Linked DNA regions of Homo sapiens: region 1 is linked to region 2. The links come from fine-mapping of genetic effects on gene expression. A gene starts in region 2. The other region holds a variant in brackets. All regions are shown on one strand. Distances are between the middles of the regions.

What was found. PIP is the estimated chance that this variant, and not a neighbour inherited with it, causes the effect.
Region 1: its variant is fine-mapped to the expression of SLC25A1 in whole blood (INTERVAL, PIP 0.96).

The regions. Positions count from the first base shown.
Region 1 is chr22:19,090,670-19,096,039 of GRCh38, forward strand. The region is part of intron 1 of DGCR2 (DiGeorge syndrome critical region gene 2); the gene reads right to left. LOC124905078 (a long non-coding RNA gene) reads right to left here. Exons shown (of 2, transcript XR_007068002.1): 2 at 4,018-5,370. Among named protein-coding and RNA genes, the nearest start is that of DGCR2, 29 kb to the right of the region's middle. The variant AGAG/A (reference allele first, on the strand shown) is at 2,228.
Region 2 is chr22:19,175,667-19,180,978 of GRCh38, forward strand. It overlaps SLC25A1 (solute carrier family 25 member 1), which reads right to left and starts at 3,070. Exons shown (of 9, transcript NM_005984.5): 1 at 2,914-3,070; 2 at 2,467-2,574; 3 at 2,276-2,375; 4 at 2,061-2,199; 5 at 1,454-1,538; 6 at 1,180-1,284; 7 at 912-1,027; 8 at 755-828; 9 at 1-578. The coding sequence starts at 3,007. The coding sequence ends at 464. It overlaps CLTCL1 (clathrin heavy chain like 1), which reads right to left. Exons shown (of 33, transcript NM_007098.4): 31 at 5,065-5,140; 32 at 4,533-4,572; 33 at 3,807-4,303. The coding sequence ends at 4,553. RefSeq lists enhancers at 1-117, 2,368-3,115 and silencers at 2,287-3,366, 3,567-3,666.

The sequences.
Region 1 (5,370 bases), 85 kb before region 2:
TAAGGCTCTCAAACTACAGGTAAAGTGGTCCATCACTTGAAGGTAGTCTATGATAAGTTAATGATGAACCCGACTAAAATAACACAAGAGTTGTGGCAAGTAAGCCAACATAGAAGAGAATAAAAAATAATCCAAAAGAAGGAAAAAAAAAAGACAAACAGATGGTACAAATGAAAACAAAGGGTAATATGGTAGATTTTAATTAAACTTGCCTAATCAATAAATACGCAGAACGATCTAAACACTCCAACTGAAAGGCAGAATTTGTCATGTAGGGAAAAAATCAAGATACAACTACATATTACCTAAAACAAACTCACTTTATATAGGCATAAATAAGAGAAAATAAAAGAATAAAAAAGATATACCATGTTAACACTAATCAAAGGATAGCTGGAAGGGCAGGTACATGGCTCATTCCTGTCATCTCCATAATCCCAGCATTTTGGGAGGCTGATGCAGAAGGATCACTTGAGCCCAGGAGTTCAGGACCAGCCTGAGCAACATGGCAAAATGCCATCTCTCTAAAAATACAAAAAATTAGCCGGGTATTGGGACAAACGCCTATAGTCCCAGCTACTCGAGAGGCTGAGGTGGGAGGATCACCTGAGCCTGGAAAGTTAAGGCTGCAGTGAGCTATAATCGTGCTACTGCACTACAGCCTGGGCAACAGGAGTGAGACTCTGTCTCAAAAAAAGGCTAGCTGGAGTGTATTAATATCACACAAAGTAGACTTCAGTGCAAATATTACCAGGAATAAAGAAGGTCATTTAATAATGATAAAGGGATTGATTCAAGAGGACATAATCCTAAATGTTTATGTATCTATTAAAATTTACAAAAGAAACTTCAAAATTCATGAAACAGAAACTACTGTAACTGCTAATAGACGAATCCACAATTAAAGTCAGAGCTTTTAATAACCCTCTTGATAGAACAAGCAGATAGAAAACCAGCAAGGGCTGGGCGTGGTGGCTCATGCCTGTAATCCCAGCATTCTGGGAGGCTGAGGCAGGCAGATCACTTGAGGTCAGGAGTTCGAGACCAGCCTGGCCAACATGGTGAATGGACAGGAGTTCGAGACCAGCCTGGCCAACATGGTGAATACTAAAATACAAAAATTAGTTGGGTGTGGTGATGCACGCCTGTAATCCCAGCAACGTGGGAGGCTGAGGCAGGAGAATCGCTTGAACCTGAAAAAAAAGGAAATTACAAAAGAAGAGCAAATGAAACCCAGCAGTAAGAAATAATAAAGATGAGAGTGGACATTACTGAAATTGAAAACAGAAAAATAGAGAAAATAAGAAAAACAAAAGTTGTTTTTTTGAGATCAGTAATATTAATAAACCTCTAGACAGTCTGATCAGCAAAAAAAAATAAAGAATACAAAATACCAGGCCAGGCATGGTGGCTCACACCTGTAATCCCAACACTTTGGGAGATGATCCAGCAGATCATCTGAGGTCAGGAGTTCGAGACCAGCCTGGCCAACATGGCGAAACCCTGTCTACTAAAAATACAAAAATTAGCCAGGTGTGGTGGCACATGCCTGTGGTCCCAGCTACTCAGGAGGCTAAGGCAGGAGAATCGCTTGAACCTGGGAGGCAGAGGTTACAGGAAGCCAAGATTACACAACTGCACTGCAGCCTGGGCGACAGAACGAGACTCCATCTTAAAAAAAAAAAAATACTACTATCAGAAGAGAGATGTCATCACTGTGGATTCCAGAGAAAGTATAAAGGCTAACAGAGGAGTGAAGAATAAGGTAATAGTATGAAAAACTTTATGTCAATAAATCTGACAATTTGGATGAAATACACAAATTCTTTGAAAGATGAAATGCAAAGTTCACTCCAAAATAAATAAACAATCTGAACAGCCCTAAAAGGAATTGAATTTTTAGTTAAAAATCTTCAAAGGAAACTCCAGGCACAAATAGCTTCAATGGAAAATTCCTCCAAATATTTAAGGAAGAATTGATGTCAATTCTATACAAACTCTACTGTAAGTTCAGGTATTTAAAAATTACCATTAACAATAGTATCAAAAAATAAGAAATACTTAGGTATAAATCTAACAAAAGATGTGAAGTCCTGTACACTGAAAAATTTTCAACATTGCTGAGAAAAAACATTTTTTAAAGACCTAGGTGCAAAGGCAGCTCCCTGAAGAAAGAACAGGCCTTTCAACAGAATGGTACTGCGAAACACGGAAGAAAGAAAAATGA[AGAG/A]GAGGAGGAGGAGGAAAGAAAGGAAGAAGGAAGGAAGGAGTTCATCTACAAAATGAAGTTAAAAAAAGGAGGAGGAAGAGGAGGAAGAAAGAAGAGAAGAAGGAGGAGGAGGAGGAAGAAAGAGGAACAAAGAACAACTACTTTGATCCATTCCTTGAACCGCATAAAAAATTCAGAATAGCCAGGCCCAGTGGCTCATGCCTGTAATCCCAGCACTTTCGGAGCCTGAGGCGGGTAGATCACCTGAGGTCGGGAGCTCCGAACCAGCCTGACCAACAAGGTGAAACCCTGTCTCTACTAAAAATACAAAATTAGCCAGGCATGGTGGTGCATGCCTGTAATCCCAGCTACTCGGGAGGCTGAGGCAGGAGAATCGCTTGAATCTGGGAGGCGGAGGTTGTGGTGAGCCGAGATAGTGCCATTGCACTCCAGCCTGGGCAACAAGAGTGAAACTCCACCTCGAAAAAAAAAAAAAAAAATCAAAATCGATCATAGGCCTACAGGTGAAGCCTAAAACTATAAAACTCAAGAGAAGAAAACACAAGAAGAAAATCTTCGCACCCTTGGTTTAAGCAAATACCTTTAATATATCTACCAAAAACACAATCTATAAAAAAAATTGATAAATTGGACTTCATCAAAATTGAGAACTTTTGTTTTTCAAAAGACATGTTAAGATAATGCATAGACAAACCACACACAGAGAGAAAACATTTGCAAATCATGTATCTGATAAAGGGCTTGCTTGTAACCAGAATATATAAAGCATGCTCAAATTTCAATAAGAAAACAACCCAATTTTTTAAATGGGCATGGGCCAAGTGCAATGGCTTATACCTGTAATCCCAACACTTTAGGAGGCCAAGGTGGGAGCAACACTTGAGCCCAGGAGTTCAAAACCAGCCTGTGCAACATAACAAGACCTCATCTCTACATTACAAAAAAAAAACAAAAAAATTAGCTGGGCTTGGTGACACATGCCTGTAGTCCCAGCTACTCAGGAGGCTGAGGCAAGAGGACTGCCTAAGCCTAGGAGTTGGAGGCTGTGGTGAACTAGGATTGCAATGCTGCACTCCAGCTTAGGCAACAGCAAGACCTCCCCAACTCTAAAAAAAAATAATAAATAAAATAGGCAAAAGATCTTAATGGTCACTTAACCAAGGAAGATATATACAGATGGCTAGCAAGCACATGAAAAGATGCTCAACGTCTAGTCATTAAGGAAATGCAAATTAAAGCATGAAAAGGTGGGGCACGGCGGCCCATGCCTGTGATCCCAACACTTTGGGAGGCTGAGGTGGGTGGATCACCTGAGGTTAAGAGTTTGAGACCAGCCTGGCCAACATGATGAAACCCCATCTCTACCAAAAACGCAAAAATTAGATGGGTGCGGTGGCGGGCGCCTGTAATCCCAGCTATTCAGGAGGCTGAGGCAGAATTGCTTGAACCCAGGAGACAGAGGTTGCAGTGAGCCAAGATTGCACCACTGCACTCCAGTCTGGGCGACAGAATGAGACTCCGTCTCAACAAACAAAAACAAAAACAAAAAACCATGAAGAGAAACCACTTACTAGAATGGCTAAAATGAAAAAGAATGACCATACCAAGTGGTGGCAAGTGTGTGAAGCAACTGGAACTCTCCCAGTGAAAATGTAAATGGTACAACTTCTTTGGAAAACAATTTGACAGTTTCTTTAAAAACTGAATGTATACCTACCATATAATCTGACCATTCCATTCCTAGGTATTTAACCAAGAGAAATGAAAGCATATGTCCACACAAAGACTTGTTCATAGTACTTTTATTTGTAATATCCAAAAGCTGGAAACAAACAGTGTCTATCAAGAAGCAAATTGGTAAGTTGTGTACAGCCATACAATGGAATACTACTCAGCAATAAAAAGGAATAAGCTATTAACACATTCCGCAGCATGGATGAATCTCAAAATAATTATATTGAGTGAAGAAGCCAGTATGTACTCAAAAGAATACCTACTGTATGACAACATTTATATAAAAATCTAAAAAATGCACTTGCAGCTATCAAGACAGAAAGGGATGGGGGTGGGAGGGATTACAAAGGAGCACGAGAAAATGTTTGGGGTGACGATACGCTGTGTTTGTTATCTTGACTGTGGTGACGGTTTCACAGATTTATACATATATGAAAACTCAAATTTGGCCGTGTGCAGAGGCTCACGCCTATAATCCCAGCACTTTGGGAGGCTGAGGTGAATGGATCACCTGAGGTCGGGAGTTCGAGACCAGCCTGACCAACATGGAAAAACCCCATCTCTACTAAAAATACAAAATTAGCCAGGCGTGGTGGTGCATGCCTATAATCCCAGCTATTCAGGAGGCTGAGGCAGGAGAATCGCTTGAACTTGGGAGGCAGAGGTTGCAGTGAGTCGAAATCACGCCACTGCTCTTCAGCCTAGGCAACAAGAGCAAAATTCTGTCTCAAAAAAACAAAAAACTTGGCCAGGCGCGGTGGCTCACACCTGTAATCCCAGCACTTTGGGAGACCGAGGCAGGCAAATCATGAAGTCAGGAGATGAAGACCATCCTGGCTAACACGGTGAAACCCCGTCTCTACTGAAAATACAAAAAATTAGCCGGGCGTGGTGGCGGGCGCCTGTAGTCCCAGCTACTCGGGAGGCTGAGGCAGAAGAATGGCGTGAACCCAGGAAGCAGAGCTGGCAGTGAGCCCAGATCGCGCCACTGCCCTCCAGCCTGGGCAACAGCGCAAGACTCCGTCTCAAAAAAAAAAAAAAAAACAACTCAAATTTTACACTTTATGTATCATTTATTATAAGTCAATTATACCTCAATAAGGCTTTTTTTAACTATCATGAAATAGATTTCTGTTTAAAAAATCAGGAAACAATTTTGAGATCAAAAGATACTGACCACAAGGCTAAAAATCCAGGCACCCTGTGTTCTAGGACTAGATATGCCTGGAACTGAAGAACTAAATTGAATCATGGCCCACCTAACGTGCTTGCTTCTCTGGAAAAGACAGCCTTGGCCTACCAGATCTCACCCCCGCCATCCATACAGGAGCTAGGTCCTTTTCATAATTATAAATCCAGGGCTTGCCCCATGACTGGTACTGAAGCACTATTTGATGAGTAAATCA
Region 2 (5,312 bases):
AGGGCCAGTTAAGGCCAATGGCGGGAGAAGCAGGGGGCTGCAGCCCCTGGAATGCGGTGAAGCCAGGCCGAGGCCCGGAGGCAGCTGTGGTAGGCCAGGGCAGGGTGGAAGGCACCGGACTGGGACCGGGCCAGGGCTACAGGGCCGAGGACCCAGGCCACACGGGCACCCCGGGAGGCGGGGCACAGGGTCACGTGACACAGAACATGAAACACAGGCACAGGGTCATAGGCCAGATGCACATCCAGCCATGGCTGGGCCAGACACTGGGACACAGTGGTGGTGTCACACACAGACCACAGGGGGGACACATGGATTTGACAGCCACAATGCACAGACCAGGCTACAGAGCTCGAGGGACGTGGGAAGGGGCCTTTTGGCACTACTGCACTGGAATCGTGAGACAAAGGTAGCAGGACACTCTGGCGGTGCCTGGGGCGGTCCCCTTGCGGCCTCTCTAGGCTTAGTCCGTCTTCCACACTTTGTTGAGCAGCTTCACCACTTCATCATAGATGACAAACACTATGGCCACATCCAGGCAGACCCGGCCCAGGCGGGGGACAGTGCCCTTGTAGAATCTGGGTGGGAGGAGGGGCGGGGAGAGGAAGGCAGGTCAGCACAGTGTCCCTGCACAGGGCAATCCCCAGATACTGAAGTGAGAGGCACAGAGGCCTGAAGGGGACAGAGTGGGCAGGCCAGGTAGGCCGGGAAAGGTTTGAGGTGGGGACAATAGCCCTGCCCCTCCCCCACTCACGCCTTGAGCCCCTCCTTCTTCAGGATCTGCAAGCCGCAGTCCCACGTGTTCCGGTATTTGTGCGCCTCCAGGCCCTATGGGGGACATCAGCAGGCAGGGGCTCAGCAGCTAGCTCTGGCCTGGTCCCCCCTTCCCCTCCCCTTCCCGGCCCCACCACCTGCATCCGGGTCTTAATCACATCCAGAGGAGTGTTTCCAAAGACACTGGCTGCGCCTGCAATAGCTCCGAAGACCCCAGTGATCAGAGGGTTCATGGGCTTGTTGGGGTTGTCCCCTGGATATAGGAGGGGTGAGGTGGGTCAGAGGGTGCCGGGAGGGGCCTGGATCAGCACTTCAAAAGGTGGGTGCCCGCCACCCAGGGGTGGCCCCAAGGAGAGGAGAGGAGCTGGCCATGTGCAGAGATGGGGCCCTGTGATGCAGACACACCTCGGTACCAGTTGCGCAGGGAGGTCATGACGAAGAAGCGGATGGCCTGGTTCGAGCCCTGCTTCAGGACAGTGGCTGTGAGGCCCTGGTACGTCCCCTTCAGCCCTGCGGGAAGGCAGGCACGGGGTTACCCTGCAGCCTCTCAGGCCCCGGTTGGGAATTGGTGTGTGTGGGGGGTGGGTGTTGCACAAAGCCCAAGGCAGGATGGGAGGTGCAGGCCCTTCCCACCCTGGCCCAGGTCCCTGAGCCCTATCAGGAAGGTCGAGTGGCTCACCTTGTTCCCGCACAATCTCCCTAACCCCGTGGAAGAATCCTCTGTACTTGGGGTTTGGGGAGGTCTGGTCGTGGATGAACTTCACCTGAGAGAGAGAAGCAAAGGCGCAGGTTCTCGGCTGCCACCTGGGTGGGTCCTGGCTAGCTGGCAGGCCCAGGGCCCATCCAGGGTGGAGGGAACTGGGAACTCTTCCCCAGGAAGCAGTGCAGCCAAGGCCGCCCTGGGCTGCCCACACGGACCATGCCCCGGGACACAGGGCAGCCCACACGGACCATGCTCTGGGACACAGGGCAGCCCTGTGAGCAGCCTCTCCCTTTATGTTTGCTGCTCTTTTCCAGTTTTGGCAGTGAAGGTGTCATTTTGTTTTCTGCTTTATAAAAGTATTTTTTAAAGACTTTAAGGCTGCCTTTAGCATAGACTCAGCCTCCACGGGTGGCCCTTCGTGGCAGGCGTCCTGCCCCAGGGCCCCGCGGTCACCCCGCCGGCCTTCCCTGGCGTCCAGGAGACCCTCCCCAGCTTGCCGGTTGCCCCGGGAGCACCGGGCCAGCGGGGCCGCCCGTCTCCGTACTCCCTGCGTGTCCGGGGTCCTCGCCAGGACCTTCCCCACCTTGATGGTCTCCATGGGGCACACGACCACCACGGCCTCGGCCACGCCAGCGCCCAGGCCGCACAGCAGCCCACGCGTGCTGTCCAGCCGTCCCTGGGCATCCCGCATGTGGTTGCTGAGGAACTCGAACATTCCAAACCTGGAGGCGGGAGGCGGGTGAGAGGGGCTGCCGCGGCCGAGCCCCCCTCCCGCAGCAGCCACCGGCCGGGCCTCACCTGACGGCCGCCTTGGGGATGGAACCGTAGAGCAGGGAGCTAAGGCCGCGGTACAGGCCCAGGACGCCATGGCTGCGAACCGTCTGCCGCACGCAGTCCCCTGGGGGAGGGGGCGGTCAGGACCCCACGGCCCTCGGTGCCGCCGCCCTGGGTACCCGCCCCCCGCGGCGCCGCGGCCTCCCCCTCCTCACCGATGCCCCGGTACCGCGGCGGGTGCGAGCGCTCGTCCAGCTGCAGCTGCGTCTTCACGTACTCGGTGGGGAAGGTGATGCAGATCTCGATGCCACCCGCCAGGCCGCCTGCAGGGACCGGGAACCCGCTCCTGAGACTCCCGCCCGGCCGCTGGCGCTCGGGCCCCTCCCCCGTCCCGGACTTCGGTCGGCGCGGCCGCCGCGCCAGTGCCGCGGGGAACATAGGCTGGGGCCCCACGCCCCCATGCCCTCACCCCGTTGTCCCGGCGAGGCGCAGGGGGTGACAGACGGGAGGCGGGCGAGTCCCAGCGCGCCGGGTGGGGACCAGGACCGCGCCTCCACGACTCCCCAGCCCACGGCCCAACCCGGAAGTGGGGCGGGGCCTCAGCGTCCCGGGCCCACCCAGAAGCGCGGCGGGAGAGGGGTCCGCGTCCCGGAGGGGCCCACCTGCCAGGATCGCCTTCCCCGGGTGCGTCAGCTTGGCCTTCCCGGACGCGGGCGCGGCGGCCGCCAGAGCGCGCGGGGCGCGGGGCGCGGGCATGGCGGGCGGGAGGCGGGGCGCCCTGTGGCGGCTTCGGGTCCGAGACTCCAGAACTCCGCGCTCGGTCCGCGGTGGCGGCGGCGGCCGGTTATGGTCCCAGGGGCGGGGCGGCCGCGTCAGCTCCAGGTCCCGCCCCGCGTGGTCCGAGCCAGGCCCCGCCCCCAGCCCGCCCCGTGCGGGCCGGGAAACTGAGGCCTGGGCGGGGCGCGCCGAGGCAGGCGTAGGGGCGGGGCCAAAGCGCAGCCAATGGCCGAGGCCGAGTCCCTGGGCGACCGCGAGCGGCGGGACGGGGGCGGGGCTGCGGGAGGCGGAGCCGTGGCCCAGCTCCGAGCAGTGGGTCAAGGTGCACTGTGTGCCGCGCCGCGGGATAGCGGGCCTCGGGTCTGCGCGACTGTCGAGAGCGGCGGGATCCCCAGGGATCCCGGAGGCCAGGGGCACACCCTCCCCGAAAACACGTGGGGCTAGCCCAGTCCCAGAGGAACTCTAACGTTTCAAACCTGGAGGCGGGAGGCGGGAGGCCGGTGAGAAGGGGCTACGCCGCCGGGCCCCCCTCCCGCAGCAGCCACGGGCCGGGCCTCACCTGCCGGTTCCCACCCACACCTTTCCCGGTTGTAGTTTCTGCGCTCAGCGAACAAGGTCAGGAAAGACCACAAATGCAAGCGGCTGTATTCTCCTAGGCAGCTTGTCTGGGCAACGGAGGTCCCACACCCCAAAGAGGACCCAGCAAATCTTTAATGGACTGCGGGGCCTAGGAAACTGGCCCGTCCCTCCTACCCATACCAGCACCAAGCAGAGCACCTTTGCCTGGATAAACCGACTTTAATATTTATGATTGCCAAGAGGCTGAGAGTCCTTTTATGAGGTCCGGTACCTCCAAACAAGACGTGTTCATGTAGTCTTCAAACTGGCCTGGAGGGGGCAGCTCCAGCCAGTCGGAGGCGCCCAGGAGGAAGGCCTGGCTCCAGCAGGAGGGCCCACAGTCCAGTCTCTGTTGTCGGCTAAAGCTGGTCTTGCGCCGTCAGCCTCTACCCTGGCCTCCCCAGGCTCTGGGATGGCTCAGAGGTTGCCGTCATTGGGTTTCAGCAAAAATAAATATTGTCCAGGTGTCCCTGCCTCCCATTGCGTCCCCTGTGCTGCTGGAGTGACATGCTCCTTGGAGAAGTTAGTAACTCTGCAGGTAGGGTGGGTGGTGACAACGCCCACTACACGCGGAAGTTGTACATTGGAGGCTGGCGAAGTTGGGAGCAGAGGCATATCCATAGGGGAAGCTGGCAGGGGCTGGGCCCACGGCAGGGCCTGCAGAGGGGGAAGCCCACAATGAGCAGAGCTCTTCCTGCCCATGGGGGTCCTCTCCTGGCTGCCCCTGAGTAGCCCGGGGCCCAGGGAGCAGGGTCTATAGGACCAGCCCTTACCACCCAGACGCTGAGGCCCCAAGAGAGCAGGCATCCAGAGGCAAGGAGCGTGGGGTCAGCCAGAGAACCTGGCCTGGCTAGAGGATAAGCTAGTCTCCAAATGGGACACTTACTTAGTGCAATCAGCTGGGTCTCATTCATGCCCATCAAAATCTAAAAAAACCAGAATGACATTAATGGTGGAAGGACACACTCAGCCGGACGCTGGAGACCCGCCGGCGTGCTGCACACTCACACCACACCCTCAGGCCTGTGTTTGCCCCACAGTGTCCAAGCACCCCACAGCCTCTCCAGTCTGCTCGACAGCCAGGCTGCCCTGGGCAGGTTCTCAGGTGCAAAGCCCCTCCCAGCACACACCAGCAGCAGCCTTGCTGTCCAGGGGCCAGGCCCAGCAGGACACAGCAGTAGTTCACAGCTAGGCAGGCACCCCTATCAGAAGGCAGGCATCCTTACAGCAGGGAGGACAGCGGCCGTGCCAACATTCCTGGGCGTACACTTCTCCACACCCAGTAGCCACTGGGATCCTTCCAGCCCCCACCCATCTATTCCCATCCCCATCCAAAGCCCAGCCAGGTAAGGGCAGTGGGACTTTGACTCCCTCCCTGCTCCCTCCCCAGGGGGTTGGGGGCTACAGGTGCCACCTACCAAACACGAGAGGGGCAGGCTCTGTCACATGCTCCTCTTGCTTGCGCAGACTCTCCAAGGCATCCAGTTTGTCCACCTGCAAGGAGGCAAAAGCACGTGAGCACCCGCTTGACAGAGTGCAGTCCGGCCTCTAGGTGAAAGTGGAGTGGAAGGTCAGGACACAGGGCCTCCAGGAGAATGACAGTGGAGGAGGTGCACATGGGCAGATGTGGAGTGGCTCAGCCCACACCCCATGCACTTTTAGAATG